2 separate regions of the Homo sapiens genome follow, and region 1 is linked to region 2. The links come from fine-mapping of genetic effects on gene expression. A gene starts in region 2. The other region holds a variant in brackets. All regions are shown on one strand. Distances are between the middles of the regions.

Evidence for each region. PIP is the estimated chance that this variant, and not a neighbour inherited with it, causes the effect. A credible set is the group of variants that fine-mapping cannot tell apart.
Region 1: its variant is the best candidate, but not a certain one, in a credible set for the expression of NAP1L2 in whole blood (TOPMed, PIP 0.74).

The regions. Positions count from the first base shown.
Region 1 is chrX:73,113,744-73,118,149 of GRCh38, forward strand. No RefSeq gene overlaps it. Among named protein-coding and RNA genes, the nearest start is that of PABPC1L2A, 36 kb to the left of the region's middle. The variant T/C (reference allele first, on the strand shown) is at 1,885.
Region 2 is chrX:73,212,621-73,217,026 of GRCh38, forward strand. NAP1L2 (nucleosome assembly protein 1 like 2) reads right to left here and starts at 2,231. Exons shown (of 1, transcript NM_021963.4): 1 at 1-2,231. The coding sequence starts at 1,872. The coding sequence ends at 490.

The DNA of each region.
Region 1 (4,406 bases), 99 kb before region 2:
TCTAATTCTAATTCTTTGGCTATTTCCACCACATGTGCAGTTACCTCTTCAGCTGAAGTCTTGAACTCCTTAAAGTCATTTATTAGGGTTGTAATCAACTTCTTCAAAATTCCCATTAATGTTAATGTTAATATTTGATCACAAATATTCTTAGTGGCAACTAGACTGGTGAATCCTTTCCAGAAGATTTTCAATGTACTTTGCCCAGATCCATCTGAGGAATCACCATCTATGGCAGTTTTGCCCTATGAAATTCATTTCTTAAATAATAAAACTTACTTCTTCATCCATAGGCTACAGAATGGTGTTGTGTTTAGCTAGCCTGAAAACAACATTACTCTCCTTGTATATCTCCATCAGAGTTCTAGGTGCATTGTCAATGGGTAGTAATATTTTGAAAGGAGTCTTTTTTTCTGAGCAGTAGGTCTCAACAGTGAATTTAAGATAAAAAATATTTACTCATGCCCCTTCCATTCCCTCCCTGTAATTCTTCCTCACACTGTCCTCCCCATCACCAGGCAACCACTGATCTGTTTTCTGTGGCTATAGATTACTTTTCATTTTCTAGAATTATGCACAACTGGTGATTGTCTCACACACACACACACACACACACATACACACATCACAATATGAACTTCTTTTGGCCTGGCTTCTTTCAATCAGAATAATTATTTTGAAATTCTTTGTGTTGTAAGGAATGTGTTGTGTTGTTTGTGTTATAATATATTAATAAATAGTGATGACTTATTGATTGCTGATAAGTACTCTGTTGTATAGATATGCAATGGTTTATTCATTCACCTGTTGATGGACATTTAAGATGTTTCTAATTTTTGGCTATTACAAATAAAGCTGTTATGAACATCCATGAACAAGTTTTGTGTAGATATATGCTTTCATTTGGCTTGGGTAAATTCCTTAGAATGAAATACCCGAGGCATATAAGTGTATATTTAACTCTTTAACATGTTGCAAAAACTGTTTTCCAAAGTGATTGTACCGTTTTTACATGCTTATCGGTGGTATATGACTGTTCCAGTCCCTTCACATCCTATCCCACACTTGATATGGAGAGTCATTTTAATTTTAGCCATTCTAACACATGTATAGTGGTATGAAATTGTGGTGTTTAGTTGTAGTTTCATCATGATCAGAAATATTAAACATATTTTCATGTGCTTATTTCTCATCCATGTCTCTTCTTTGGTAAAGTAATTTGCTCTAATATTTGGTCTTCTTCCATTTGGTTGGTTGTATTTTTATTACTGAGAATATACACATAGTTCTATGTGTATGTTCTGGATAACAGCCCTTTATCATTTACATGTTGCATTAAAGAAAAGTTTGCCTAACACAAGGTCATAACAGATTTTCATATGTTTTTGACTAGAATTTAAGCTTACATTTAGGTCTGTGGTCTACATTGAGTCAATTTTGGCTTATGTATGAGGTATGGAACAATGTTTTTTTTTTTGAGGGGTTATAAATACCCAATTGTTTCAACACCATTTGTTAAAAAGTCTATCCTTTCTACCCCGAATTGTCTTCATATCTGTGTTGAAAAATTGGTTGTCCTTATATGGGTATTTTATTTCTGCATTATCTATTTTGTTCCATCATCCATTTTTTTCCTATTTTTATGCAGTATCACACTGTCTTGGTGACTGTTGCTTTATAGTAAGTCTTAATTCTCCAACTCTGTCCTTTTTCAAGATTATATTGGCTATTCCAGGCCCTTTGTAATTCCACACAAATGTTAGAATATTCTTGTCTATTCTGCAAAAATCCCATCTGGAATATTGAATGAGATTGCATCAATTCTATAGTTCAATTTGGGAGAATTGACATGTTAACTATACTGAGTCTTCTGACCAGTGAACA[T/C]GAAATGTCTCTCAATTTGCTTAGGTCTTCTTTACTTTCTCTCAGCAGCAGTTTTCAATATATATATATATCTTGAAAATATTATCCCTAAGAATTTCATATTTTTGCTTGCTGTTATAAATTTATTTCAATTTCTTACCACTTTTACTACTATATATAAATAAAATTGAGTTTTTATATTGATTTTGTATCCTGAAACCTTACTAAACTGACTTCTTAGTTCTAGTTTCTCTTTTATGGATTCCTTAAGATTTTCTACATACAAAATTCCCGTCTGCAGCAAGATAGTTTTACTTCTTCCTTTCCTATCTGGATGCCTTTTATTTCTTTTACTGGCATAATTGTCCTGGCTAGAAGGCCCATAGAAGTGGTAGAGTGAACAGCCATGTCTTATTCCTGATCTCAAGGGGAAATGACTTGCTCTTTCAGCAATAAGTATAAGGTTAGCTGTCAGTTATTCATAGATGTCCATTATCTGGTTAAGTTTCCTTCTGTTCCTAGTTTGATGAGGCCTTTTATCATGAAATGGTGTTAAATTTTATGAATGCTTTATTGAGATGATCATATGATTTTTCTGTTTTTAGTTCACATGATGAATTATATTGTCTGTTTTTTAAAAGTTAAGTGAATCTTGTATTTCTGGGTAAACCCCATTTAGACACAATGTAGCAATTGTGAATGGGAGTTTACTCATGATTTGGTTCTCTGCTAGTCTATTATAGGTGTATAAGAATGCTTGTGATTTTTGCATATTGATTTTGTATCCTGAGACTTTGCTGAAGATGTTTATCAGCTTAAGGAGTTTTTGGGCTGCGACAATGGGGTTTTCTTTTTTTTTTTCAAAAGCCTTAAAGATCATTTATGCAGCCAAAAAACACATGAAAAAATGCTCGCCATCACTGGCCATCAGAGAAATGCAAATCAAAACCACAATGAGATACCATCTCACACCAGTTAGAATGGTGATCATTGAAAAGTCAGGAAACAACAGGTGCTGGAGAGGATGTGGAGAAATAGGAACACTTTTACACTGTTGGTGGGACTGTAAACTAGTTCAACCCTTGTGGAAGACAGTCTGGCAATTTCTCAGGGATTTAGAACTAGAAATACCATTTGACCCAGCAATCCCATTACTGGGTATATACCCAAAGGACTATAAATTATGCTGCTATAAAGACACATGTACACGTATGTTTACTGCAGCACTATTCACAGTAGCAAAGACTTGGAACCAAGCCAAATGTCCAACAATGATAGACTGGATTAAGAAAATGTGGCACAGGGAGGAGGAGCCAAGATGGCCAAATAGGAACAGCTCCAGTCTACAGCTCCCAGCGTGAGCGACGCAGAAGACAGGTGATTTCTGCATTTCCATCTGAGGTACCGGGTTCATCTAACTAGGGAGTGCCAGACAGTGGGCACAGGTCAGTGGGTGCGTGCACCGTGCATGAGCCGAAGCAGGGCGAGGCATTGCCTCACTCGGGAAGCACAAGGGGTCAGGGAGTTCCCTTTCCTAGGCAAAGAAAGGGGTGACAGACGGCACCTGGAAAATCCGGTCACTCCCACCCGAATACTGTGCTTTCCGACGCGCTTAAAAAACGGCGCACCAGGAGATTATATCCGGCACCTGGCTTGGAGGGTCCTACGCCCACGGAGTCTCGCTGATTGCTAGCACAGCAGTCTGAGATCAAACTGCAAGGCAGCAGCGAGGCTGGGAGAGGGGCGCCCGCCATTGCCCAGGCTTGCTTAGGTTAACAAAGCATCTGGGAAGCTCGAACTGGGTGGAGCCCACCACAGCTCAAGGAGGCCTGCCTGCCTCTGTAGGCTCCACTTCTGGGGGCAGGGCACAGACAAACAAAAAGACAGCAGTAACCTCTGCAGACTTAAATGTCCCTGTCTGACAGCTTTGAAGAGAGCAGTGGTTCTCCCAGCACGCAGCTGGAGATCTGAGAACGGGCAGACTACCTCCTGAAGTGGGTCCCTGACCCCTGATCCCCAAGCAGCCTAACTGGGAGGCACCCCCCAGCAGGGGCAGACTGACACCTCACACGGCCAGGTACTCCAACAGACCTGCAGCTGAGGGTCTTGTCTGTTAAAAGGAAAACTAACAAACAGAAAGGACATCCACACCAAAAACCCATCTGTACATCACCATCATCAAAGACCAAAAGTAGATAAAACCACAAAGATGGGGAAAAAACAGAGCAGAAAAACTGGAAACTCTAAAAAGCAGAGCACCTCTCCTCCTCCAAAGGAACGCAGTTCCTCACAAGCAACAGAACGAAGCTGGACGGAGAATGACTGACGAGCTGAGAGAAGAAGGCTTCAGATGATCAAATTACTCCGAGCTACGGGAGGACATTCAAACCAAAGGCAAAGACATTGAAAATTTTGAAAAAAAATTTAGAAGAATGTATAACTAGAATAACCAATACAGAGAAGTGCTTAAAGGAGCTGATGGAGCTGTAAACCAAGGCTCGAGAACTACGTGAAGAATGCAGAAGCTTCAGGAGCCAATGCAA
Region 2 (4,406 bases):
ATATGCAGGCCTCTTAAGCATCCAAGTTTTAAATTCTACTGCATTGTTATTGCAAAATGAAGCAGGCACAACAAAATTAAATCCACTAGCTAAAGGACTAAGTAAACAAAAATAGAAAAAGAAAAACAACAACAGCGAAAACCCTTGGGTTGTTTCCCAAGATTTTTTTTCCAAACAAATATTGATCTCACTTAGCATTTCTGATCATTTCATAGCCACAGATTAATAGCTACATGACAAAAAGACTTCAGAAGGATTAAGCTACACAACACTATACTAGTGTTTTAAATCATTTACCACAGTGTACATTTCTTGAAAACATTCTACTACTAAAACTCAAGGTCAAATTAATTAGTTTTTGAACTTTTCTTATATTTTTGAAACATATGTTTTAACTAACACTACAAGAAAAATACAGAACACAAGGCTTCTTATACCTTGAGTAACTATATCTAGGGCAGTTAATTTCAGGGCCATGTATACTCTGCTCTAACGATCAATGTCTTCTACTAATGCCTCAAGGTTTTTGCAACAAGCTTTAACTTCCTCAATTGCAGCCATCCAATTATCATAAATAATTTTGTCATAAATTGCATCATTAACTTCTCTAACTACCCCCTCCTGCTGAGATTCCAGTGCATCACCTGAGAAAAATAATACTGATCTTGGAATTATGTAAGTACGTAAATTGTGACCAAGTAAAAAATCATCATTTCCATCCCTTCCATTTGAGGTGATTCCATGAGGAGAGAAAAAATTGAAAAATGAATCCTTGGGAAAATCTTCAGTTACAGTTCGGATTGTTCCCCAGATCCGATGTTTCTGTTTCTTCTTGATGGTTTTCAAAGTGACATTCTTTCCTTCATTCCAATCTATCTCACAGCCTGTGGAATACTCAATCGCAGTTCCCCTATAGGGATGGGGATCATAATATGCTAGCTTTGACTTCAGCACATAGGTCTTTGTCAACAACTCATTTTTGAAATATTCATTGGGTTTGAAGTGAAATTCTAGTGTGAAACTGAGGGGCTCGCCAGGATCTGAAAGCTTAACTTTAATATCTGTCAGGAGCTTCAGAATAGGCTCATCATATTTCTTAATCAAAGGAGTGAGTGTATCAACGTTTTTTAAAACAGTTAGCCAAAAATCAGGAATTCCCTTAGGATCCTCCTCTTCTTTATTCTCTTCTCCAGTAGCCTCAATGTCGTCCTCCTCCTCCTCCTCCTCCTCCTCTTCCACAGCATAATCATAATAATAGTCCTCATAACCATCGTCCTCATCCACATATTCATGTACCATACCCTCCTCATTACCATACATCTCTTCATGACACATTTCCTCATCATCACAGTCCTCAGAGTCTGATTTATATTCACATTCCTCTTCTGTAGGTTCATAGATTGCATTGATGATCTGACGTCTTTTTTCCAGTAAGGGTTGGTACATTTCAGCAAACTTTCTTTCAATGTCATGAAATTCCCTCAGGAATTTGGATTCTAAATTGGCCGCTCTAGTTTGAAGCTTTTTAAGGGCTAACACACGGTACTTAACTTTCACAGGTAGACTTTCAACAAAGTCTGTATCTAAAACATAACCGATAAGTCCTTTTGGACGGTCTGCCTCTGAGTCCTCATCAGTATCGCCACCTTTTTTCCCATCTTCCCCGGACCCAGCAGCAGTATCTTCACCGTTTTCCCCTTCTTCCCCAAGCCCAGCGGCAGCTTCTTCACCGCACTTCCCATCGTCTCCAAGCCCAGCAGCGGCATCTTCACCGCGCTCCAGATGTTCCCCGAGCCCTTCCACCATTATCTGATTACCAGCCTCTTCTTGACTGGATTCTGACAGCTCCTTGCGGTTCTCTGACTCGGCCATTTTTCAAAGGACCGTACACGCCTAAGGTGGCTACCACAGAGATCGGGAGACCAAACCTCCACAGGAAAAGACTCACCGAAATATCAGAAGCGGCGGTGGTCGGACCTAGCAGTGGCGTCCGGACTGAGGGAACGACGATCCAGGCTGCTCGGGGATAAAAGATGGTGCTGAGGCTTTGAGAACCGGACTGAAGCAGTGGCGACCTGGGCTGGGTGCAGAGGGCGGCGACGGCTGCGTTGACCGATCCTGCAGGAGAGAGCCGGAGACTGCAGAGAGCTGCAGTGGGCAGACCTCCTCCGCAAGCAGCTACTGCTGCAAGAAAAAAACGGTGCCGCAGTATGATTACGCAGCTATCACTTGCCTAAAATTTCTAGGTGCAAATAGATTGCTGCGTCACCTCCTTCCCTCCCACAACTATGCTCTAATCTCATTTGCTGCAATGTAGTGACTGACAAACCCAGAGCCAGTAAATTATTAGATCTATCAAGTTTTCAACTCTGCTCACCTTCCCAGGCTCTCTAACATGGCTGATTCATCCACCTCCTCCTCGTCCTCTAGCCCATCTCCCGCAGAGTTTTCTGGAATCCCATTGCGTTCATTAGTTCATTCATCCAACTTTTAACAGATATTATACTTTTATGCTTTCCAGAGAGCTCAGAGAAAACGTAACTAAAATGTCGAACAATGAGAGAAGACAAGGCACCCACCCATCCTAAATCAATCTCTTTGATTTTAGATCGGGGACCTGGGGAGGGGAGAGGTGGATGGTGGAAGAGCTGATAAACAAACGCTTCAAAGATTAAAAACACCAGGAATTAGCACTGATGGTCTTTAGGTGGCGTGTCAGTTATTTAAATATTCTATATTATGTTTGTCGGTATTTTTCACAAGCTATATGATTTTAGGTTGAAAAATTCTCGAAACATTTCCTGTGAGGGGAGGAGGAGGAAGTCCGATGGCAGTGGGGGCGAATGAGGGCCTGTGATGAAAAACTAGTATGGTGTATACAACTACGTGACTAGTAAACATACCAGACAATTAACCACAATTAACCAGTTGCCTGGCTTATAAATAACCCCAGTCCCAATACTGACTTTCTGCTTCTCCTTCTTAATGCTGGCTTTAACAGCCGTTAGAAATATACATATATACAAAAGCCAAAATGGAAAGTTATGTTTATTCTTAGAAATCATAACATTTGCTTGATGCTTTTGAGTTAATTGGAAATAATCTAAATCTCAGCATTAAAGAAATGGTTAAACTATTTGATAATGTATTTATAGGATGGAAAGCTTTGCAGTAATTAAAATTTCCTCTCTATAGTAATTATTGGTGAGGTTTATTTTGTTCATATTTCTAACTTGGATCATTTATTAATTGAACAATTTTTTAAAATTTTAAGTGACTATTATTTTCCAGATTTAAAGAATTTGTTACTATCACAGATATTAAAACTGTTTACATATTGTTGTATTTATTTCTAAATTCTGTCAGTTTATAGATAAATTTTTCCTTTAAGTGAAAATACCAGATACAAAAGAACAAATATTGTATGATTCTACTTTAATTAGGTATCTAGAGCAGTCAAATTCACAGAGACAGAAAGTAGAAACATGGTTTTCAGAGGCTTGGGGTAGGGAGGAAAGGAAGTTATTGTTCAATGTGTATGGAGTTTCAGTTCAAGAAAAAGAAAATATTCTGGAGATGTATGGTGATGATGGTTCACAGCAGTGTGATTGTACTTAATGCTCCTGAAATGTAGATTTAAAAATAGGTAAAATGGTAAATATTATGTTATGTATATTTTATCATAATATAAAGTGTAGAGAAAAATATTTTAAAGACCATATTCAATATAGTACTGGAAGTCCTACCCAGAGCAATTTTGCAAGAGAAAAAAATAAAGGACATACATATTGGAAAGGAAGTTGCTAATTTATATCCTTGTTCAAAGAAGACATGATCTTATATTTAGAAAAACCTAAAGACTCCACAAAAAAACTGTTAGAACTAACAAATTAAGTAAGTTTGCATGAAGCAAAATCAACACACATAAATTAGTAGCATTTCTGTACACCAGCAGCAGACAATTTGAAAAAATCAAGAAAACAATCCCATTTACAATAGCTACAAGAAAATAATACATCTAGGAATAAATTTAACCAAAGAAGTGAAAGATCTACGCAATAAAAACTATAAAAACACTAATGAAAGAGATGAAGAGAACCCCAAAATGGAAAGATATCCTATGCTTATGGATTAGAAGAATCAATATTGTTAAAATGTTTATACTACCCAAAGAAATCTACATATTCAATGCAATCTCTATCAAAATACCAATGACATTCTTCACAGAAACAGAAAACAATATCCTAAAACTTTTATGAAACTACAAAAGATCCCAAATAGCCAAAATGATCCTGAGCAAAAAGGACAAAGCTGGAGGCATCACACTGCCTGATGACAAAATGTACTACAAAGCTGCATGGTACTGTCATAAATACAGACGCAAAAAACCAATGGAACAGAATAGA